Linked DNA regions of Homo sapiens. The protein of the gene in region 7 interacts with the protein of the main gene of each other region in a pairwise test. Each region holds a gene or a part of one and is shown on either strand. Other genes may lie near its edges.

Region 1 (3,500 bases), on a different chromosome or scaffold from region 7:
TCCTGTGTCTACTGTTTTGTTGTTGTTAATATGGGTAAAGTGAGCCCTGAAATACATGCTAAACAAGACATGAAATGCAGAAAGGTACATAGTGTTTCAAGTGCATGGTAGTTTGATCTGTGTTTTACTTTATTGTGTTTTCTTGAGTGTAAAGAAAGAATAAATCAAAGTTCTTCATACCCATTTTGACAAAGTGGAACAGTGGAGCTGTTTTTTGCTTTTGTTTTTATTTATTTTTTGCCACTGGTGATGATAGATTTCAAAAAACAAAAGGTGGCAGCAGCACAATGTTCATGGTGAATTATCTCATAGTATCTAGATTGATCAAGATCTGACAGAAGGAATGCACAAAGGATTCTATATTCTTAATGATTTATTAATTACCAGGATCCTTTTCTAAATTGAATGTACTTTTGAATTACTAGGTTTCTTCTTTTTTTTTGTTCTGCAATAGTGAAAGAAAACTCAGTAGTTTAGTTTCAGTTTCTCATGGAAATTGGTAAATGTTAGTTTTGACTTCATCTATTTTTTATTTGTTTTTATTAGCGTAGAGTAGGAAGTCTCATATTCTACTGTTCTATCTAGGATGGTGAAATTCCAAAGGTGCCTAACTTGAGTAAGGGATTTGTGACAAGATAGTACACATTACTATAAGGGCTATTATTTCCTGAACTGGATGTCCCTAAAAGCAAATAAACTGCCCACTATCTCTACTCTAGTGCTCTCTTTGTCCTTATCAACATATACCTCCAATAAGTAATTACATAATTCACCGTTAAACATGGACCCACTCTAGGTAAAATTACCCTCATGGAAACATTTTCACTGTGAGAATGATGAATTTAAAAATTATGTTTGAATCACCTAAAATGTATGTGCAGCTTCTAGATGGCCCCTTAGATCTGCTGGGCTCTAGCTGTGTACTTTAAAAAAACAAAAACAGCTTTATTGATATATAATTTACATATTATGTAATTTACCCACTTTTAAGTATCTAATTCAGTGATGTTTTAATACATATGTAGAACTATGCAGCCATCAGCACAATCTGGATTTAGAACGTTTCCATCATTCCAAAAGATTCCTTTTGTCTTTTTTGCAGACTCATACCTAACACAAATCTAAAGTTTATCACTGTTGCCAGGATAATTACAGCAGGTTATGTTTGGTTTCATTTTTAAGAGTGGAGGTGTTCATGATTCTAAGCTCAGGAATCTTGTGATCATGTATTAAATATGTTATCTCATACTATAATGATAAAAAAGCTTAATGATGTGGGTTGGGATGGATATTAACATAAATAATTGAGTCCGCTGCTTCTATAGCAATGCTGTAGGATAGAACAATAATGTAAGTGATATATGTAATTAAAAAATTCTAGAAGCCACATTAAAAAATAAAAATAAACAGCTGAAGTTAATTTTAATATTTTATTTAACTCAATACATCCAAAATGTTATCATTTTAACATGTAATTGATGTAAAGATTTATTCTGATAGTTTGTACTATTTCTTGTACTAATTTTTTGAAATCTGGTATGCATTTTACAAATTTGGGCAAGCCACATTTTAAGTGCTCATTAGCCACATGAGGCCAGTGGATACTGTATTGAATAGCACAGTCCTATAGCATATTTATTAATTTGTCTTGTAGTAAGATGAAATAGACAATAATACGGAATAATATCTTAAATGGAAATCTTTGTTAGTCTCTAGAGCCTTCATTGCTTGATAAATAGGACATCTAAACTTTAGATATAAATCAGTTGTCAATGAGATAAAATTATTGCCAGCAAATATTTTCCTTCAAAGATAAGTAACTTTTGATATGGCAGTTGGTGAAATGAAAGAATATAATCTGCCTTCTTGTTAAATGGTTGACTATTCTGTAGCTTGTAGGTAGTACGTATTAGAAACTTGTGTATGTGGGAAATATTTGGCATAATACTGTTTTCAGTATATAGTAGCTATTTTTTAAGGAAATTAGTTTCATACAAGAAAAAGATTATTATAAAAGTGATACTTTTGCATGAAATATTAGTTTGTGTTGATAACTCTTAGTTAACCCTTAAAGTTTAAAACAGTACTCAAAAAAAAATAATGAGAATCTAGTATTCTGTAGTTAACTAATCTATAAGATAAATTGCTAAAGTACTAGGGAGCTTGTAAATCTTAAAAATCTTTTTATTTCAGTGTTCATTCAGGTTGGATATATTTGAAATTGTAGATTTCTATCTGTACAACATCTCCTAGTTAATAGAATTTTTTTCCTTCCCCTCCCTTCTCTCTCCTCCTCCTTTTCTAACCAAAGGGCATTTTATCAACAATCATGCTGAATTCAATTAATATCTCAAGCTAAAAAACTATGTAATTGAGGTTGTATCTGGAGAAGATGGGAAAACATTGTATAATTTAAGCCCTTAATTGTCTGTTGAGCTTTTAGGGCTGAGTAATTGCCTTTCATACAAATAAAAGCTTTAACTCTTTTCTCAAGAGTGTACCACCGTCCTTAGAATCAGGTGTTTTAAATCCAGTTTCTTTTAATTAAATGGGACTGTAGTGATCCCTACCCTGTAGAGAAATCAACAGAACTAGAGAAGCTAAGGGCTTGATCAGGTTTCCCCTAGAACCTGTGTTGCCTGCCTGCTGTATCTTCCATGTCTTTCTTATTCAACTTCTAGAAGTAGAGAAGGTTGGGACTTGAGTGTAGAAGAAACATCAGAATAATTTCAAAAAACAGGAAGTTGGAACTATAATTTTTAAATTATTGTATTGTTTTTACGGATTTTACATGTATAGTTAAATATTAAAATTCATCTCTTGCAGTTCAATAAAAGCTATAGTATAGATTTTATTTTTAAGAAGTTTATATAATTCTTTTGTGAACCAATATGTAAAACTAGAATATTTATTAAACTAATAATATGTATTAGTATCAATAAAATATGTATTTATTTTTAAATTGGTATGAAACAAAATAAAAATTTGTAGACACTCTTAAAATTGGTCATTGATATTATCTTTGTAATTTAACATTAAGTACTATTTAGTTTCATATGCCTGAATTTAAAGTATGTAATTTAACTTCCTGAATTCTTACAAAAGGAAAATATAAACCTGGAAAGTCAAATTAACAACACACATGCTGATCTCTCCTGCCAGTGTCTCATATAATATTAGCTGTTATACAATACTGCTGAAACTTTATTTGCTATTATATATTCAGAACAAATAATATATTGTGCCTTTGTAAATTATGGACAGGATTTATTGTACACATGTTGAAATAATTGTGTTACCTTGATTAGGAATTATGATATTTTGTTTGGAATTGAAAAAAACTAAAAGTGATTACAAGGACACCCACGATCTATGTTATAAGAAGGCAGTTAGGGATGCTGTGGTAAGTATGTAATAGAAAATATGACTGTGAAGCAGGGAGTTACTTTCCTCATTTAATAAAACATCTGGTACTATGGTTTGAATATTTGTGTTCCCCT
Region 2 (3,500 bases), on a different chromosome or scaffold from region 7:
ACAGATTAAAGATGATTATTGGTATTATTTACAGTACCAAAACAAAATAAATATTTTAACAAAATTAAACCAATCCCAACCAATTATTCCGACCATTTGCTAAGTTCCCCTAAATTAAATTTATACTCTCCACATGTGGAAAATTAATGATCTCATCATTTAAAATGGACTCCTTTAACATAAATTTCTCTTAATGACTGTAGGAGACCGTTATTTTAGATGTCTCAAGACCACTTTACTGAAACACTACCTTAAAAAAAGAGTCTCATTACAATGGAAACAAAAAGCTATTACGAATTAAATACTGTGATGGTTAATACTGAGTGTCAACTTGATTGAAGGATGAAAAGTATTGTTCCCAGGTGTGTCTGTGAGGGTGTTGCTAGAGGAGATTAACATTTGAGTCAGTGGACTAGGACACGCAGACCCACCCTCAATCTGGGTCGGCACCATTTAATCTGCATCAGCACGGCCAGAATAAAAACAGGCAGAAGAAAATGTGAAAAGACTAAACTGGCTTAAGTCTCCCAGCCTACATCTTTCTCCCATGCTGGATGCTTCCTGCCCTTGAACATCAGACTCCAAGTTCTTAGCTTTGGGACTTCTGGACCTTTGACCATAGACTAAAAGCTGCACTGTTGGCTTCCCTACTTTTGAGGTTTTGGGACTCGGAATGGCTTCCTTGCTCCTCAGCTTGCAGATGGCCTACTGTGGGACTTCACTTTGTGATCATGTGAGTCGATACACCTTAATAAACTCCCCTTTATATATACATCTGTCCTATCAGTTGTGTCCTTTTAGAGAACCCTGACCAACACAAATAACTCCTTTTCTCTGCCATGTTTCATAAAATGTGTCTCTAGTAATATTAACATCAGTGAAGAAAATATAAAACCATATAATTACAATTTTAATGCCTTAATTTTCTCTGAAAATCTTAGATGTTACTAGTTTTTCAAATAAAATAAGTGTTACAAATTGCTTTAGAAAATTTTTGTCTCTTAACCTGTTATTTTCTTTTCCTTATTCAAATCTATTTGTAACCACTGGTATTCATCAGTGGCAAAAGCAGCCCAAGGCGGTCCAGGTTTTTTCAGCCTGGCTTTTTTGGGTTTCCAACTGTTCTCTTGCCCTGTGTGGTCAGTCCACTCCAGCACAGATGATGCTGTTATTTGAGGATCCGCGATCACACCAGACTCCATCCCCAGTGTTCCATAACATCCTGAAACAAAGAAAAGACTAAATTTGGTTTCCAGGTATAATTTCAAAATGCATGTAGACCTGCTCACTGAAAACTTTCTATTCCATCTTTAATTAACATACACTACACTAATAATACACTGTAACAGAGAAATTTCAAAACTAGGCAAGTGTTTCTTGGGCATATGTCTTTGTGTATCATTAGGAAACCTACAAACATGCTCATTTATAAGCATGACTGTTAGTTTAATGGAGATACATTATCTTCTCCCTGGGACACTCTTCCCAAATAACTGAGTAACTCACTCCTTTACCTCCTTCAGGTTTTTGGCCTATGTTGCATTCTCCCTGAGGTCTTCCCTGGGAGGAAGGCCCTTCCCAACTTCAATCCAGTCCTCCTTATTTTCCTACATCTTTTATCATATTGTAAACAGTACATTATAAACAGAAATTTATTCATTGCTTATCATCAATCTCTCACTACTAGAATGTAAGCTCCAGGAAGGCAGGAGTTTGTTCACTTTACTCTATCACTCGAACCAGAGCAATGCCTGGCACATAAAGAGAAGGCACTCAGTAAGTATTTTCTGTTGAACGAATTGATTACTTCTTCAGACAAGTTCAAAAGTCATCTTTCTTAAGGAACCTTCCTTGCTTACATGACCATTTCTCTATAAATATAAAACTTTCAATTTGCTCTATTCATTATATTATTAGATAACTATCTTACCTCATAGTGTTATTAAGACAACTACGTGAGAAAGTACAATAAATCAGCAACTGACACAGTGCCTAACAGTGTTCAAAAAATATTATATAAATAAAAAATTATAAAGTCCATAAAAGGCTTACCACTTGTCTTAAATGTAAAAAGACTTGTAGATAAGTGTCCCCTGAAAGAGAGAAGGGTTTTTTTTGGTGATACTCACATAACACATGATGCCCCATATTTAGTGAAACATTTTCTTTTGATTTGGTTCCCCCCACCCAATAAAAGAACCAAGAAGACTGTGTGGCTAAAAATTAGACAACTAATATTGTTCCTAGGAAAAAAGTCTCATTTCTAAGCAGGACAACTTCTGAAATCAGCATAAACAGCTTTCTCTACAAGTATCTAGCACCCAGTTTCATATGTGATTGTGCAAAAGTTCTCTATGTAATCTTTAATATGTACTTCTTTTTCATATGTATTTACTCATTGTTTACTGTCAATCTCTCACTACTTTATTTCATGAAATAAATGGATTCTTAACACTTTTCTGTGGCAAATGCTTTCGATGAAAATACACTAAAAGGTCTAATTCTCAGAGAATGAGGCTCAAGTTTTTTCGGATAAACATGAGAAAAGTTGGGTACTAATAGATTTCTTTTTCTTTTTTTTTTTTTTTTTAGGAGAAATCAACATCTCATGGAAGAAGTTTCAGTGTACACTCCTGCCTTTAGTCCAACATACAAACCATTACAAGAGGATGCAATTTATCCCTGTTTTCTTTTTTAAAGTATGAAAGAGAGAATTCACAAACACTAAATCTTTCTAAAGGTATAACATGGTAAAGGAATGAAAGGGTCTGCATAAAATAATCTAGAAAAAAAAAAAAAAAAAGAAGGGAAGGTAGTTGAATCTATACCAGGGATGGGCAAATGACTGCCCATGCATGGCCTGTTTTGTATGGGCCGTGAGTTAAGAATAAAGAGCTATAAATAAAACAAAAAAAGAATAAGCTGCAGCGACATGTGGCCTGTAAAGCCTAAAATATTTATTAGCTGGATCTTTACAGAACAAATCTGCTGAATCCTGTTGTATACCAATCTGGATATGGATGATGCTTGTGTCTTCTGAATGAAAATTGGCCTAGGACCTCTGAAGAAAAGCTGGTTTCAATTAGGCTTAGTGTTGTCTGAAAGACTGAGCAGATCTAAGAGACAAGATTTATAAAAACAGATTGCTAACACTGCATTTCTATTTAATGTTTCAATTTCTCTTGCTTTTGATGCCTACCCTACGTTTTATAAAACAGTAGAACACTATAGTTACCATGAAAATACATCTTCAAAATATTCTCTTAGAATGAAAGGAAGATTCACAATAATGCTTATGATGTAACACTTTATGTCAAACTTAAATTTATATTTAAAGTATTTCAATTATCTTGAATCCCCATGTGCTATAAGGAACACAGTAGTTAAGCCTTTCAATCTGTAAAATAAATAAGGATTTGGCAACAAACTTCTAGACTCTTATGTAGACTTTTTTTTAACACTTAGAAAAGACAGAAGAAACACATTACTCTTCCAAATGA
Region 3 (3,500 bases), on a different chromosome or scaffold from region 7:
TCTTCTCAATTTCGTACCATCTTCCGAGATACTGCAGAGACAACAAGCAGAGCAAAACCCTGTGGTTCTCTGGGGACCTGCAACTTCTTCCCCATTGTCGTGCAGACGCAGAGCCCTGTCCTGGGGAAGCCAGACAAAATGGGCCTCATTGTTCCCAGTGGCAACTGGGCAAGAGATTGATTGCAATGAGAATCTGTGACTAGGATGGGATGTGCGGGCAGGGGGTGAATGCTGAGTAAAGGGCTCTTCTCAGGGCCCACTTCAGCCAAAATCGCTGTGACATTCTAGACTCTGTAAAAAAAGGGGATGATGGGAAATACCTTTCATCTGAAACAGTGCACAATTCTACAAGTCATCTTTGAATCCTGTGCAAAGTCAGATGTGTTCGCTGTGGGGAGCTAGGACTCCAGAGCGCACGGAACTTTCCTCATCTGACCCTGAGGAGGGATTTAGTCATCAAGGCTTTGGAGAGGTGGTGGGGATTTGAAAGGTCTGTATCATGCTTTCTCTAGGGGCCTGCGCTCAGTCCAGACTTCAGGTGTATACAGTTAGCTTTAAAGGAAGCTGCCACTGTGTGGGGAAGGTCGAGGGAACCAGGCCCTCCTAGGCTGCCTGGCACGCGTTGCAGGGAGACCATACCAGTTTACAACCTCTGCGGAGGGCAGTTTGGCAATATCTAGCAAAGCTAAAAATACATATTATACTCTTTGGCCCAGCAATTTCACTTCTGGGAATGCATCCTCCTGATATAAGAAATGATGTATGTGTAAAGTTATTCATTACAGTACCGTTTGTAATAATACAAGATAGGAAACAGCCTATGTGAGCATTAGTAGGGGGCTGGGTGAGTAAACGATGGCATATCCAGACAATGGAATTTTACTTCCTCTTTCAAAAGAGTGGTATGCAGTGATTTCTAATATTTAATGACAAAAGAGTCAGGTACAAAATAGTGTATCTATTAAGGCACCTTTTGTGTAAAAATGGAGAAAATGTTTATTACGTTGGTTTTCTGTTGCTGCTATAATAAATTAGCACAAGCTTCAAACAGCACAGATTTATTATCTTGCAGTTGTGTAAGTCAGAAGTCTGACAGGTCTCACTGGGCTGAACTCAAAGTGTTGGCTGTGTTTCCCTCTGGGAGCTCTAGGGGAGGATCAGTTTCCTTGCCTTTTCCAAGTTCTACAGGCCGCCTACATTCCTTGGCTTGAGGCTTCCTCTATTTTCAAAGCCAGCAAAAGGAAGTCAGATCCTTCTCACATTGCATCTCTCTGACTCTTATGCCATCATCAAACCTCTCTCTCTTATCACAGCTGGGAAAGATTCTCTGCTTTTAAGGATTTATGTGATTAGATTGAGTTCCCCTGGATAATCAAGGCTAATCTGGCCATCTCAAGGCTCATAACTTCGATCACATTTGCAAAAGCCCTTTTCCCATGCAAAGTAACATTCACAAGGTTAGGGCGTGGACACCTTTGGAAGCCACTCTTCTGCTTACCACAGTTATTAAGTATTTGCTTGTATATGTATATATTATCTGTAAAATTACATAATACATGGTTTTTACTAGTTGCTACTGGGGAGGGAAACTGAGGTACAGAGGTGGGAGGGAAACTTTATGTGGTGTATTCTTTTACACCTTTAGGATTTTGAACAATGTAAATATATTTATCTAGTTAAAATACTAATTAGAATTTTGTTTTTTTGAGATGGAGTCTCACTATGTCACCAGAGTGGAGTGCAGTAGTGCAATCTGGGCTCACTGCAACCTCTGCCTCCCGGGTGCAAGTGATTCTCCTGCTTCAGCCTCCCGAGTAGCTGGGATTACAGGCACGTGCCACCATGCCCGGCTAATTTTTGTATTTTTACTGGAGAAGGGGTTTCACCATGTTGGCCAGGATGGTCTCAATCTCCTGACCTAGTGATCCCCCTGCCTCGGCCTCCCAAAGTGCTGGGATTACAGGCGTGAGCCACCGCGCCTGGCCTATTCTAGAAATTTAAAAACAAAAAGAGATGCGCTCACCTTCAGAGTCAGAACTTGAAAAGAGAGGATGCTGCACACAGGTGAGTATTGCTTCAGCCACGGCTTTCCGCTCAAATGTATGCCACATTCATGACCATAAAGTTCTACTCACTTATTAAAGCACAGCTTTCAATTAAAGCCACTGAACTTAACATTCATTTAAAGTACCAAAGAATAAGGTTAGAGGTTAACTGGTTTCATAGACATTCTCGGAAGAAGCTCCATTTTCTATGGTGCATTCAAATCTGTTCTATTTCTGTTAAAGTGAGTTTAGTGCCCCATAGTAAAAACCAAGGAAGCATGATTTTTCAGAAAAGAGGAAACTCAGAGCTTCCTTATGATCTCATATTATTTTTGCAAAGGCTTCTTAATCTTTTCAGATCTCTGGTCAGTATTGAAAAATAATCCTAGAAAAGAAGAGGTAAAACTCTATCTGTTTGCAGATGACATATAAAATATCCTAAGAAATCTAAAACAGAGACAAAACCAAAAACTATTGGATCTAATGAGTTAAGCAAGGTTACAAGATACAAGATTAATATTCAAAAATCAAATATATTTCTCAGCCAGACGCAGTGGCTCATGCCTGTAATCCCAGGACTTTGGGAGGCCGAGGCGGGTGGATCACTTGAGGTCAGGAGTTCAAGACCAGCATAGCCAACATGGCGAGGCCCCATCTCTATAAAAAATTTAAAAATTAGCCGGGCATGGTGGCACGCAACTGTAATACCAGCTACTCGGGAGGCTGAGGCAGGATAATCTCTTGAACCTGGGAGGCAGAGGTTGCAGTGAGCTGAGATGGTGCCACTACACTCCAGCCTGGGTGACAGAGCAAGACTCTGTCACACACACACAAAAATATATACATATATAAACATATTTCTCTACTTGCAATGAACAATTTGCAGATGAAATTAAGAAAATTCCATTTAAAAGGCCGGGCACGGTGGCTTGCTCACACCTGTAATCCTAGCACTATGGGAGGCCGAGGCGGATGGATTGCCTGAGCTCAGGAGTTCGAGACCAGCCTGGGCAACATGGTGAAACCCCGTCTTTACTAAAATACAAAAAAACTTTGCTGGGTGTGGTGGCGTGTACCTGTAGTCCCAGCTACTTGGGAGGCTGAGGCAGGAGAATTGCTTGAACCCGGGAGGCGGAGGTTGCAGTGAGCCAAGATGGTGATGCTGCACTCCACCCTGGGTGACAAAGTGAGACTCCGTCTCAAAAAAAAAAAGAAAAGAAAAGAAAAAGAAGAAAATTCCATTTACAATAACATCAAAAGAATAAAATATTTGGGAATAAATTTAACCAAAGAAACATAAAACTTATACTCTGAAAACTACAAAGTATTGTTGAAAGAAATTAAAGATGACCTAATTCAATGGAAAGATACACTATGTTGACAAGTTAGAAGACTTAATATTGTTAAGATGGCAGTACTCCCCAAATTGATCTTCAGATTTAATGCAATCTGTAT
Region 4 (3,500 bases), on a different chromosome or scaffold from region 7:
GTAATTAAATTACCCTGCCGATTCCTGGAGATGCTGATTACCTGGAGATGACCTCAGAGATTATCCTAAATTAACTCCTACAAGATACATATTGCAGCGGGAGGTGAGGTAGGGGAAGGATTGTGCACCTGAGGCTAGCAAAGGTTTCCACTCTGTTTAGAGATGATGTCACCAGTGCGTTTACATTTGCGTTGTGTTCACACATTGAGTGCTACTATGTACAAGACCATGTGTCAGACACTGAGGTAACAGGTATAGCTACTAGATAGAGTTCATAGCTATGGAGGCAAGCAGATTCACTGACTGCTAATTCTAACATGATGTGACAGTGCAACTAGAAAAACATAAACAAGCACTATGTGAGCACAAAGAAGGTGCACATCAACTCCTTACAGGTACCTGTAAAAGCCAAAGGGTAACAGTTGGATTGCACCTTGAAGAGGATGCACTTTTTTTTTTTTTTAAGACAGAATCTCACTCTGTTGCCCAGGCTGGAGTGCAGTGGGGCAATCTGGGCTCACTTCAACCTCTACCTCCCGAGTTCAAGCAATTCTCCTGCCTCAGCCTCCTGAGTAGCTGGTACTAGAGGCATGCGCCATGATGCTGGGCTAATTTTTGTATTTTCGGTAGACGTGAAGTTTCACCAAGTTGGCCAGGCTGGTCTTGAACTCCTGACCTCAAATCATCCACCCACCTCAGCCTCCCAAAATGCTGAGACTACAGGCGTGAGCCACCGCGCCTGACCTGGATGTAAGATTTTGATAGGTACAGAACAAGGAAAAGACTTTCCAGGCCGGGCACAGTGGCTTATGCCTGTAATCCCAGCACTTTGGGAGGCCGAGGTGGGCAGATCACGAGGTCAGCAGTTCAAGACCAGCGTGGCCAACATGGTGAAATCCCATCTCTACTAAAAATACAAAAATTAGCCAGGCATGGTGGTGGGTCCCTGTAATCCCAGCTACTCCGGAGGCTGAGGCAGGAGAATTGCTTGAACCTGGGAGGTGGAGGTTGCAGTGAGCAAAGACCGCGCCACTGCACTCCAGCCTGGGTGACAGAGGGAGACTCCGTCTCAAAAAAAAAAAAAAAAAGACTTTCCAGAAGGAGCAGCATAAACACAGGCATGACATGTTTCCATAATGGCAAGTGGCCCTAAATGACTAGAATATAAGGTAGATCCAGTAGGAAAGGACTTAGAAGGGGCTTTGGAAGGTGAGTCTGGAAATTAAAACTGGGGTAAACGTGATGGACCCTGAACATCATTATACTGCTTAAGATGCTAATCTTAATCCTGAAGGTAATGGGAAAACCTCCTAAGGTTTATGTTATTTTCTTTCTACTTAGGCTATTTAAAAAGTGGAGTGACGGCCAGGCGCAGTGACTCATGCCTGTAATCCCAGCACTTTGGGAGGCCGAGGTGGGCGGATCACCAGGAGTTCGAGACCAGCCTGACCAACATGGTGAAACCCCGCCTCTACTGAAAATACAAAAATTAGCCAGGTGTGGTGGTGGGCGCCTGTAATCCCAGCTACTTGGGAGGCTGAGGCAGAAGAATTGCTTGAACCCGGGAAGTGGAGGTTGCAGTGAGCAGAGATCGTGCCATTGTACTCCAGCCTGGGCAACAAGAGCGAAACTCAGTCACAAAAAAAAAAAAAAAAAAAAAGGAGTGACATGCTTAGATCTCTGTTTTGGAATGACAGGTTTTTTGTTTCTAGCATCAATCCAAGGTTCATGGCTTGAGAAGGTGTACTGCCAGCAATGCCATTAACCAGCAAAGGGAATGCAGGAAGAGGAACAGATCTGGTGGGCATCAGTTTGGATGCTCTGAGTTTGAGCTGCCTGTGAAAACTGCAGGTGGTGATATGCAATTAACATTCACATACGGAGTTCAAAACTAGAGACACAAATTTGAGAGTCATCACAGAAATGTGAAGTGTGTTTTCTATAACTAAAGATAACCATGCTAACATAGCCATGTGTTACATTAGCATTTTTTTTTTTTTTTGAGACGGAGTCTCACTCTGTTGCCCAGGCTGAAGTGCAGTGCACAATCTTGGCTCACTGCAACCTCCACCTCCTGGGTTCAAGCGATTCTCCTGCCTTAGTCTCCTGAGTAGCTGGAATTACAGGCACCTACCAACACGCTTGGCTAATTTTTGCATTTTAGTAGAGATGGGGCTTTACCATGTTGGCCAGCTGGTCTCAAACTCCTGACCTCAAGTGATTCACCCACCTTGGCCCCCCAAAGTGCTGGGATTACAGGTGTGAGCCACTGTGCCCGGCCTTACATTTTGTGTTTTTTCCTGCTGCTTGTATGTGTGCAAGTCTGTGTATCATCAATGGGTATATGTGTACCTGCGCTGACAACAAAAAATGAGATGCATATCAGCTACTACACAAAGCTGTTATAAGGATGAAATGCAGTTAGCCAGTGCTCAGTAAAGGGCAGTTGCTTTACTACTACTAGGTGGGGTGGTGTATGTGAGAATCTGTATACTGCCATTAGTAGGCTTTAGTATGTAGTGTGCATATGGAATTCATGCATTAGTGTGTAGTATGTGTGGGACCCACTCACCTGAGCAGCTTCTCTCCCCACTTACAGTGGCATCTGTTGAGGATTCCTGTGAGGGATAAGGCAGGGAGTGAACTTGTTACAAGGCAGGGACAGGGAATGGAATGTGTTTATGTGTCTAAGCTGAGGCATCCAGGTCAGAGGTGCTGGTTGTTGAGGAAGCTGGCCTGGGAGGGCACAAAGGCAGCCAAAGCTGGTGCCTGGCCACAAATATGAGCTGGGATTACCGTACATGGAGATGGGGGAAGGGATGGACACTCACAGGGACACTTAGCCAGAAAAATACACAAAGCAGACCTAGTTAAAACTCAAGAACTGGCCAGGCACGGTGGCTCACGCCTGTAATCCCAGCACTCTGGGAGGCCGAGGCAGACGGATCACGTGGTCAGGAGATCGAGACCATCCTGGCTAACATGGTGAAACGCAGTCTCTACTAAAAATACAAAAAATTAGCCGGGCATGGTGGCAGGCACCTGTAGTCCCAGCTACTCGGGAGGCTGAAGCAGAATGGCATGAACCCGGGAGGCAGAGCTTGCAGTGAGCGGAGATCGCGCCACTGCACTCCAGCCTGGGTGACAGAGCAAGACTCCGTCTCAAAACAAAACGAAACAAATAAACAAACAAACAAAACACAAAAAACTCAAGAGCCCTCCCGCCCCTCCAAAAATACAAAAACTCAATAGCTGGCCGGGCAGGGTGGCTCATGCCTATAATCCCAGCACTTTGGGAGGCCAAGGCAGGAGGATCACTTGAGCTCAGGAGTTTGAGACCAGCCTGGGCAACATGGCGAAACACCATCTCTACTAAAAATACAAAAAAATTAGCTGGGCATGGTGGTGCAGGCCTGTAGTTCCAGCTATTCAGGAGGCTGAGGTAGGATGAGGCAGAAGAATCACTTGAACCCAAGAGGCGGAGGTTGCAGTGAGCCTAA
Region 5 (2,717 bases), on a different chromosome or scaffold from region 7:
GACGGGATCTCCCTCTGCCGCCCAGACTGGAGTGCAGTGGTGTATCTTGGCTCACTGCAACCTCTGCCAGCCAGGCTCAAACGATTCTCCTGCCTCAGCCTCCCGAGTAGCTGGGACTACAGGCGCGACCCACCACATCCGGCTAATTTTTTTGTATTTTTAGTGGAGACAGGGTTTTACCATGTCTGCCAGGCTGCTCTCGAACTCCTGACCTCAGGTAATCCGCCCACCTCAGCCTCCCAAAGTGCTGGGATTACAGGTGTGAGCCACTGAGCCCTGCCACTTGTTTCTCTTTTACATTTCCACTTAATATCTAAACCCATCTGATGCAAAAAACAAAACAACAAAAAACAACAAAAAACTGATGTGAAGAAATTGTAAATCTATATCATTTCCTCTGCCCTACACATAAAAAGTCTAAAATTGATGAAGAGGTAAATGCAACATTTTCATCAGTTAATCATTCTCTAGACTTAATAAAAACATTTCTGGCAATCAGAAAAGGGGAAAAATCTTTAATTGATTTCTCAGGTAATTTTTTTCCAGATTGTACATAAAGTGTTCTTATGTTCTCTATTTGGATGTTTCAGGAGACATACAAATGAAATACAGTACATAGACAAATGAAATGCTAATAAGAAGTAGGATGATATTAAAATATCCTTACTTTGCCTGTATGGAACAAAGGCAGTCTACTCCATCGGGGAATCAAAGCAAATGTGAATAAGAGGTTTCCACCTTGCAAAACTGTGAGCTTCATTTGCCCTGGAGAGAACTACTAGGCAAGGCTTCACATGACAGTACCTGTAGGGATGTCCATGGGGCTGTGAAGCAGGTGTATTGTATCGAACATGCAGCTGCAATGAAGGCGTGGAGCTCAGGAGAAGCAGCCACTGACAATGCCCCTCCTGGCCGCAGGGTCTTCTGTGCAGCCTCCCATGGATCAATATACCAGTTAGTTAAAACACACATCAGTATTTTCTGTCCTTTAGCAACGATGATGATATTTGCCACCAGCGAGTGTGATCTGTGAGGCGATTTTAAAATGCAGTCCTGGGATTCTACTGTATTGAAACACCTTTGATTTTCTATTTGAATACTTCCAAGCTTTGTAATTATGCCACCATGTGCTCGTGATCGTAAGAAATTAATTTTAAACTAAATATTCTTCAGTATCCCTTTTCATATATATTTTCACCTCATATACATAGTTTGGGATAAAATAGTGTAAAGAGTATAGGAAAATGCAACAAATTAAAGGGTAGGACATTAAATAAAACACCAATTTACCTTGTTCTTCAAAGTTTTTAAGGTTCAAAAATTTATTGGTATTTTAAGCCAGTGGTCCCCAACCTTTCTGGTACCAGGGACCGGTTTCATGGAAGACAATTTTTTCACGGACTCGGGGTAGCGGGATGGGGGTGGGGGATGGTTTCGGCACGAAGCTATTCAACCTCAGATCATGAGGCATTAGATTCATCAGGCATTAGATTCTCATAAGGAGTGCACAACCTAGATCCCTCGCATGTGCAGTTCACAACAGGGTTCGCACTCCCATGAGACTCTAATGCTGCTGCTGACCTGACGGGAGGCAGAGCTCAGGCAGTAATGCAAGCTCTGGGGAGCAGCTGTAAATACAGATGAAGCTGTGCTCACTCACCCACCGCTCACCCCCTGCTGTGTGGCCTGGTTCCTAACCAGTGCCACGGACTGGTACTGGTCTGTGGCCTGGGGGTGGGGACCCCTGTTTTAAGCAGTTTAAGAATTATTCTTTTTCAGAATATCTACCTCTACTGGGATAAGATCACGTTTCTTTACTGTGAGCACACAGTAGGTGCTCAATAAATGCTTGTTGCAAGAATGAATGACCGGCCGGGCGCGGTGGCTCAAGCCTGTAATCCCAGCACTTTGGGAGGCTGAGGCGGGCAGATCACGAGGTCAGGAGATCGAGACCATCCTGGCCAACATGGTGAAACCCTGTCTCTACTAAAAATACAAAAAAAATTGGCTGGGCGTGGTGGCACACACCTGTAGTCCCAGCTACTCAGGAGGCTGAGGCAGGAGAATCGATTGAACCCAGGAGGCGGAGGTTGCAGTGAGCCGAGATTGTGCCAACGCACTCCAGCCTGGCGACAGAGTGAGACTCTGTCTCAAAAAAAAAAAAAAAAAAAGAATGACAATATGTTCCTATTTTTTACCATAATAGGTAAAATCTATAAGTAGTGTTATTTTTGCCTGCGACATTTATGTAACAAAACAAAGTTCAGTTTTAGAATTGATTTAAAGTAATACTATAAGAATGGAACATTTAAAGGTTGAAACATAAAGGATTAAACAAAAGTCTAAGGTCTCCCCATGAGTTTCTAAATATAGCATGCTTAACCAGGAAAATGAACACGAATATTTGTAAATAAATTTCAGATGAAAGGAAATTTTCAATATAAGCTGTGTAAGTTTAAATTAACATAAAGAAAACACAATTGTTTGTAAAAACAATTATACACATTGAGAGAAATGATAACTCTCTCTAAATTTGCATTCTCAATATTGTCTGTGCAAAATTGCTTGTAGTGTCCTCAAATGGATGTCTGTGGCCAGGCGCACAGAGAACATCCCCTTAAATGGTACATATTGAGGCAAGGCGGCCAGCTGTCTCCTTTAACTAGATGGAGTCTGGCCAGGTCACGGCTGTGCTTTCAAACAACTGGTCTGGATAT
Region 6 (3,500 bases), on a different chromosome or scaffold from region 7:
TGTATGTTTAAAATTCTCCGTAATAAAATGTATTTTAGCAACAACAAAAATGAGCCTTTCTAGGACCATGCAAAAGCTTCTCATTAACTCTTTCAGGTAACAGATTTCAGAATATAAAAGAATTCATCCAGGGACTTCAAAGTGTTTACCAACATCCTAAATTGAGCCATTTGTTCCCTGTCCCTCATTAATCCCTTCTTGTGTCTCCTGCTCAGGGAGTTGAGGAAAAGATTCTTTTTTCTCATGTACAGAGGAGACTCAGGGCAGGATGTTACTGGAAGTTATACACATGAACTAACTCTTGGCCCACTCATCATGGAGTTCAGGTTAACCCAGCCAGGGTGTCTAACTGGTAGTAATTTCATTTTGATGTTTTCTTTCTCCAGATTGTGGATGACTTTTTCATTGGCCGCTATGTCCTGCTGGCTTTCCTTAGTGCCATCTTCCTTGGAGGCCTCTTCTTGGTTTTAATCCATTATGTTCTGGAGCCGATCTATGCCAAACCACTGCACTCCTACTGACCACTCTTCAGGAAAACGAAAACCTGTTCTCTCCTTCATTGTGATGACATTGATGAGCAGGAAGGCACTATTCAGAGCCTTGTTTTGACAGCCCTCATGCCTTAAGGTTAGAGGAGTATCTGTCCATCACTAAGACAAATCTCTGGAGTCCTGGCTTCCAGAAACAGGATTGCCAAATTGTCCCTGTGGGGCTAGATTCTTACCAGCTTAAGAAGGATATTGCTATCTTCTTAGTACCCGTACCTTAGGATTTCCAACTGTTTTGAAAGGGAAATAGTAACAGTGATCTGCTTAGAGTGGATTTTCACTCAAGTCCTTAGTAAGTGGATTTTGGGGAAAAAAGCACCTGGGCTTCTGGTTCTTTTTGATAATATATAAAATTATTCATTATGAGGTTGCAGTTGTTTGCAAAGGAGAGGCACTCAAATTTGAAAGGTTATTTTAATGTGATAATTTGGAAGACTTACTCAGATGTTGGTCATTGACCACTCTGTGCATATATTTCTGCAGAGCTCTGTGAAGGCAATGAGTGTCACTTCCCTCTGCTCTAATAAAGCAATAAATAATAGCTAAAGGGCTGACTTTCACTTCGAACTCTTGGCCACGGCTTTTTAATCAAGTTCTTTAGGTTTCCTTGGGATTAGAGGAAAGGTATGGAAATATTGTTTTTTGTTTTTTGTCTTGCCATGTATCTGTAGGTTTTTTTCTTCCATGATGTGGTGGGCTGTGTGTGCCTTATTTAATTACCATGAGTCCATTTTGGGGTGTCTTCACTTTTCATCTTTGTAGCCCTTTCTCCAAAGCTAGTGAGGAAGGTATATTCTCAACATCAGATATAACTCTATACCTGTCTGATCTCCCAGACCAAATGAAATTTGCATTAAATGGAGGGGCCCTGGTCAGGTTCCACTTTGGAAGTCTGATCCTGACTCCCTAGAGCCATTTGAAAAAGAATCTTCTGGCTTAAAATTAAGAACCAAGAAAACAAGTTGGAAAGAGATCACTGATGGAGTATGTGCTCTATGCCAATAGCACACTAATTCCTTTGAGGTTTAATTTATTTAATTTTTACAACGGTCTCATTTTTATCATCCCCACTTTAAAGTAGAAAAAATGGAAGCTTAAAGAGATCAGCTGACTTGCCCAACCTTCACCTAACAGCCAGTGTGCAAACCCAGGTGTGGTAGGCCCCAGGGCTTGTCTCAGAGAGAAAACACACTAGGGTTTGTGGAACTCTGATTGAGAGCTTCAGGTAGGTTAAGGCCACACTGTTCCTTCACTTTCTCTCCTCAATTCTGTTTTCAGGGTAGAGAAGTTACCCAGTCCTGCCACCCCACAGGCAACTAAGCTCTAAATTCCAAGAAGAGAGAACAGGTAACCACTGAGAGTCATGGGCTGGTGAGGGCCAGGTATAGTTATCCCTACATTGAACCATTTCCTTTATCTTACTTAGTTTGGAAAAACTTTGCAGATAAGGCTTTGTACAGAAAACTTCAAAGGAAATAGTTTCCTAATCTGGCCTAGGGCACACAGGTAAGAAAAGAAGAAACATCCTCTAAGCAGATTGAGGGAGAGAAAAAAGAATGCATAAGTCTTGAGGGAATTGAGACAAGCTGGGGGCCTCATGCTATTGTGAGTCTCCCTGCAGCCCAAGTGGAAGCTTGGCTCCTAACAAGCACAAGCTGCCAATTGTTACCTTCTTCTGAGAGCCTTGCTAAAAAAGTAACTCTGGGAAAACTCTTATAGGTTCCTGACCATGAATCCATCTTTTTTATTCCCCCCAAAAGTTATTCAACTATTAGATCAATGGATAATAACTATGAGGTTTTGGGTGACTATTTAGATGGAGGAAAGTGTATTAAGGTTGGAAACTAAATTCTATCCTTAATACTACTGTTTTCTAATTTTTGTTTTTTTGCCTGATGTAAATGAAAGGCATATATGTTAAAGATTGGCTTTAGGAAAAAAAAAAAAATACCCTGTGCAAAGTTTATTTCAGCTTGACTTGACCTACAGTCTACAGACCTGGAGTCTATAATTACCAGCTGTGGTGAAATGAATGATAGATTTCTTTCTACCTGCATACTCAATGCAGTTATGCAAAAAAAGCCCCGCAGGGTTGGGATAAGACGTAGAAGGCTGAGAGGGCTCAAAATGGATTTCACTGAGAGTTTGGCATGGGATAACCCTATAGTCAATGTCTGTTATGGTACCCTGTATGCTCATGGCCTTCTTGGAGACAGGGCTCAGAGGTCATTCCTTAAATACAGACAGAAGTCATCTTAGTGTTCAGAACCATTCTGTGATCAGTGGCCTTAGAACATGTTCCCTCTACTGTTCCCTACCCAGAGGGGATCCTGTGGCAGACTGGTGATCCCCACTGTTTAGAAGGTGGAGAGGGAGAGTAAATCTGGGTTTCTATATAAGAAAATAGGTTATTTCGTGGCGTCTTAAAATTGTATCCTGACAAAAGCTGAATTAGGAGGATACCACCCTATCCCCACAATGGAGATCACAATGGGTAATTTGTTAAGTTCCTTAAATTTTTCACTGATAAAAATGGAAGTAAAGCTACCATTCTTTGTGTACAATGTAAATTTAATGTAAAACTGCATCAGAATTACCATACCAATGTCCAGGGACTAGGGAGTACATAGCCATTCATTCTCGAATCCTGCCATTCATTCAGCATATATTGTGTGCCCGTAGGGTGTAAAGCACTAGTCCTGGTGGAGTAAGCCCATGGAAGAACTAGGCTGTAAGGTGTCTAGACTGTCTTCCTCACTGCTTCCTGGAAGGAGGGCATCCAATTTATTTTTAAATGTTTTTATTCTAACATAAAGCAATCCATTTTTTGTTCTGTTATTTAACAGAAACTTTAGTATCAACTCTATTTCATGGTTGTTGCAGTTGAAGTGTTTCTGGTTTATTTTTTGCTCAATGTGTAAAGAAACCTGCTGTGATTATTTTACAGATGAG
Region 7 (3,487 bases):
ATTGGGAATAGGGTTGTTGAGTTTGCTTCATGGATGTGCATGTTATGGATCGATCCATGAACCAGTCGGATTAATCTGTGCTTCACTTGCTCAATTGGACATTTATTGTCTATAGGACCTGATTTATCAGCTCTTGGCTTTGAGGGCCAATCTTGGGTAAAACTCAGAAGAGTGGATTATGGAAGAGTAAAGAATATAACATGTTCTCATGAACAGATGGACTAGGAATCTGAAAACCTGGGATCTGCCTAGGATTATGGGCAGTTGAGTTCATGTTACTGGTCCTTAATTGTTGTTTTCGTTATTTGAGGAAACTGGACTAGAGGGTGTCTAACTATTACTCTGTCTCTATGTTCAGTGATAGTAGATTTATTGGGATTGAGTTGTGACATCCAGCTTTCTGCCTTCCTCCTGTCATGAGAATAGTCAGTGCATGATCTGTGGAGCAGGAGGTGTGCTTTATAGCAGAGATAATTGGAGATAAGAAGGGAAAGGATTGTGGCAGTGGTCACACTTTGGGAATGTTGATCAGAAACACTCAAACTCAGATCTTCTAAATCCAGAAACCATGTGTTCCCCATTATGTGATACTCACCTTTATTATTCTTATTATTCTTTTTTTCCTTTTTGATACCCCTCCTTTTCCTCTCCTCTCCCTTCCCTTTTCATCTCTTCCCTTTTCTCCCTTCTCTTCCTTTTTCTCCACTGCCCTCTCTTCCTGCTTCTCTTTCCTCTTATTCCTCCTCCTCTTCATAAATACCCTTTATAGTATTTGAAACAAGAGTTTTGACTATAATTCTATGACCTATAGTTAATATTTTTTAAAAATAAGGCTTTTTCCTCCCTTCATATAGGAGTTCATTATAGAAAGCTTGAAAGGTAGAGGAAGGCGGAGCAGCAAGCCTGCACTGAGCACTGTAAAGTGCTGGGCCTTGCTCTAAGTGCTTCCCATGAAGCTTCTCATTTAGTCTTCATGGCAGATATTCTTTGTTTTTTTCTTTTCTTTTTTTTTTTGGATGGAGTCTCGCTCTGTTTCCATGCTGGCGTGCAGTGGCATCATCTCGGCTCACTGCAACCTCTGCTTCCTGAGTTCAAGTGATTCTCCTGCCTCAGCCTCCCGAGTAGCTGGGATGACAGGCATGCGCCACCACGCCCAGACAATTTTTGTATTTTTAGTAGAGACGGGGTTTCACCACGTTGGCCAAGATGGTCTCGATCTCTTGACCTCCTGATCCTCCCGCCTCGGCCTCCCAAAGTGCTGGGATTACAGGTGTGAGCCACCGCGCCCAGCCGGCAGATACTCTTATGGTTCCATTTGAAAGGTGAGGAAACTGAGGCATAGACAGGGTAAGCCCAAGGCAGAGAAGCAGGGCATGAGCCCCAGAGCTCATGCTCTTGTCATTGAGTTTCTCTGCTTCTCCTTGTTACTGGTGTAGAAGGGAGAAAATAATTTTCTGTTTCCAAAATGTTTTTATTATCAGGCCAAATTGGAAACACAGAGTCTGAGCTGAAGAAACTTGCTGAAGAAAACCCAGATTTACAAGAAGCATACATTGCAAAACAGAAACGACTTAAAGTAAGCCAATCAGCTGTCCTCAGTTGACATACACTGCACGGAGTAAATGTTCTACTTTTTGTAAAGTACCACTATTTCTAGAATATCTTCTTTTAAATATTGCAGTTCACCAGTACACATGTTACCTTTGGCTTATGTTCTCCTTTTAGAAAGAATTTTTTATTAGACTTGATATTGAAACTTGATGACAAGTGCTTAACAAGCAGATATTGAGCATGCTGGTTGCCAAAAAAGTTATGAAATGCAAAGGAAGTTCATAACATATTCTAGAATCTGTCATTTCAGGTATTCCACCACTGGAAGTCCTCGCTAGACCTACATCCCTCCATGTGTCGCCCTGACTTGCTTTGCCCCCTGAGGAGTGTGCTTTATGGTCAGCCTTTCTCCTTCTGTTGATTCCTTCCCCGGGCCCAGCAACTATTGCAAGCTTCTCTCATATTAAAAGTGTAGAAAACAGCAGCACTCCCAACCCTCCCCAACTTCCCACCTTCCTTTATCCTATCGTAGCTAAACGAGCTCCTCAGAAGAAACACCTGCACTCACAGTCACTTGACTGACTCTCCACTCGCCGTTTAACTCCTTCACTCGGACTTCTTACTCATCCCTGACCCTTCAGCTACTCTTTCAATTACGGCTGCTAGAATTCTTTTCCTGAGTTGGGCTTGGCAGATGGCTCTTCGTGTCCCTCCCATTCTTTGCCTTCTGTGGTCATCTGGCCTCATAGGAGCTGCCAGTGAGTGGTGGGTCTGCTCCTGGGTCATTTTCACAGCTGGGATATTTCCCTTCAACTTAGCTCTCTCTCTCTCTTTTTTTTTTTTTTTTTTTTGCTGAGTTTTTCTATTTCTTCTCGTTGTCTAAAATAGGCTGAACTCTGTAAGAGTTTGTATCTGCTTTACCTAGATTTATTTTTTTTAAAGGTGCAAATAATATGTTTGGTTTCTTTTTTTGGTGGTTAATTAGTCAAAGCTGCTTGATCATGACAATGTCAAGTATTTGAAGAAAATTCTTGATGAGTTGGAGAAAGTCTTGGATCAGGTTGAAACTGAATTGCAAAGAAGAAATGAAGAAACCCCAGGTAGGTTCTCATTTATATTCTTTCTCTCTTTTCAACATCAGTATTATTCATGGGAACATTCTTAGGTCTCACCAAAAACGTTCTGTAATCTGCTTTTCATTGTTGTTATTCACAGGCAGTTTTAATTATGATAGCAATAATGATATTGCACCCAGAAAAACCCAGGTGTCTAATTGTAACTCAATCTGCATCTACGTGAAGGATTTTTCTGCATAATTTAAATTATGCTTGGGAGATTTTTACCTGTTTTACAAATTTGTAATTACAGTAGTTAGTTTGGTTGAATAACTTGAGTAATTGCTTGAATATTCCCTCTAGTTTTTTCCTTAGGCAGGGAGACAGCCTCCAATCTAAAGTGTAATAAGGACCAGCACGTGGGCATCTGTAGACTGGCTGGTAAGCATGCCAGTGAACTGGCTTCAGGGTTAAGCCATAGGTGTATACACATGGGCCATTTATGCTACTCCGACTAGAGTTGAAGACTATGTTACCTGTCACAAAAGCTCTTCTGCTTTAAATGACTAAGAGCAGTAGCCACTGAGTGATGTTTCAGACTCAGCTTTATGGATTTTTCTAAAGCAGAACTGTTTTTATAAACCAGAAGGAAGTTTCTTTTAACTAGCTTGGAGGCTCCCAACCCCTTAGTGTCCTTTACAAAGTGATAAGCTCAAGTGGCTGCAATCTTACATAGGGACCTGGATGGCTGACAGACGTCAAGCAAGTCTCCTTTGGCCTAGGATACGTTTGCATGGACTTTTTTTTTAAAGCATGAAATTATTCTCTGAGTGTGGCTGTCAAGAAAATAAATATATAATGTCCTTCATCTTTTGCTATAC

What was found.
Region 1: the proteins of GDAP1 (region 7) and STARD4 interact in binary tests that used the Homo sapiens proteins (3 or more experiments, as listed by UniProt).
Region 2: the proteins of GDAP1 (region 7) and DCBLD2 interact in binary tests that used the Homo sapiens proteins (3 or more experiments, as listed by UniProt).
Region 3: the proteins of GDAP1 (region 7) and APOD interact in binary tests that used the Homo sapiens proteins (3 or more experiments, as listed by UniProt).
Region 4: the proteins of GDAP1 (region 7) and MSH5 interact in binary tests that used the Homo sapiens proteins (3 or more experiments, as listed by UniProt).
Region 5: the proteins of GDAP1 (region 7) and FAM114A1 interact in binary tests that used the Homo sapiens proteins (3 or more experiments, as listed by UniProt).
Region 6: the proteins of GDAP1 (region 7) and TMEM218 interact in binary tests that used the Homo sapiens proteins (3 or more experiments, as listed by UniProt).

The regions. Positions count from the first base shown.
Region 1 is NC_000005.10:111,495,536-111,499,035, reverse strand, and holds the end of STARD4 (stAR-related lipid transfer protein 4), read left to right. Parts: 3' UTR 1-3,003; downstream 3,004-3,500. UniProt on the Homo sapiens protein: Involved in the intracellular transport of cholesterol. Binds cholesterol or other sterols.
Region 2 is NC_000003.12:98,818,196-98,821,695, forward strand, and holds part of DCBLD2 (discoidin, CUB and LCCL domain-containing protein 2 precursor), read right to left. Parts: intron 2,094-3,500; coding exon 2,053-2,093; intron 1,223-2,052; coding exon 1,007-1,222; intron 1-1,006.
Region 3 is NC_000003.12:195,573,941-195,577,440, forward strand, and holds part of APOD (apolipoprotein D precursor), read right to left. Parts: intron 32-3,500; coding exon 1-31. UniProt on the Homo sapiens protein: APOD occurs in the macromolecular complex with lecithin-cholesterol acyltransferase. It is probably involved in the transport and binding of bilin. Appears to be able to transport a variety of ligands in a number of different contexts.
Region 4 is NC_000006.12:31,746,505-31,750,004, reverse strand, and holds part of MSH5 (mutS protein homolog 5), read right to left. Parts: intron 2,619-3,500; coding exon 2,573-2,618; intron 1-2,572.
Region 5 is NC_000004.12:38,943,523-38,946,239, reverse strand, and holds the end of FAM114A1 (protein NOXP20), read right to left. Parts: coding exon 2,683-2,717; 3' UTR 501-2,682; downstream 1-500. UniProt on the Homo sapiens protein: May play a role in neuronal cell development.
Region 6 is NC_000011.10:125,094,627-125,098,126, reverse strand, and holds part of TMEM218 (transmembrane protein 218), read left to right. Parts: intron 1-386; coding exon 387-521; 3' UTR 522-3,500. UniProt on the Homo sapiens protein: May be involved in ciliary biogenesis or function.
Region 7 is NC_000008.11:74,360,403-74,363,889, forward strand, and holds part of GDAP1 (ganglioside-induced differentiation-associated protein 1), read left to right. Parts: intron 1-1,481; coding exon 1,482-1,576; intron 1,577-1,861; coding exon of another isoform or gene 1,862-1,972; exon of another isoform or gene 1,973-2,417; intron 2,418-2,536; coding exon 2,537-2,651; intron 2,652-3,487. UniProt on the Homo sapiens protein: Regulates the mitochondrial network by promoting mitochondrial fission.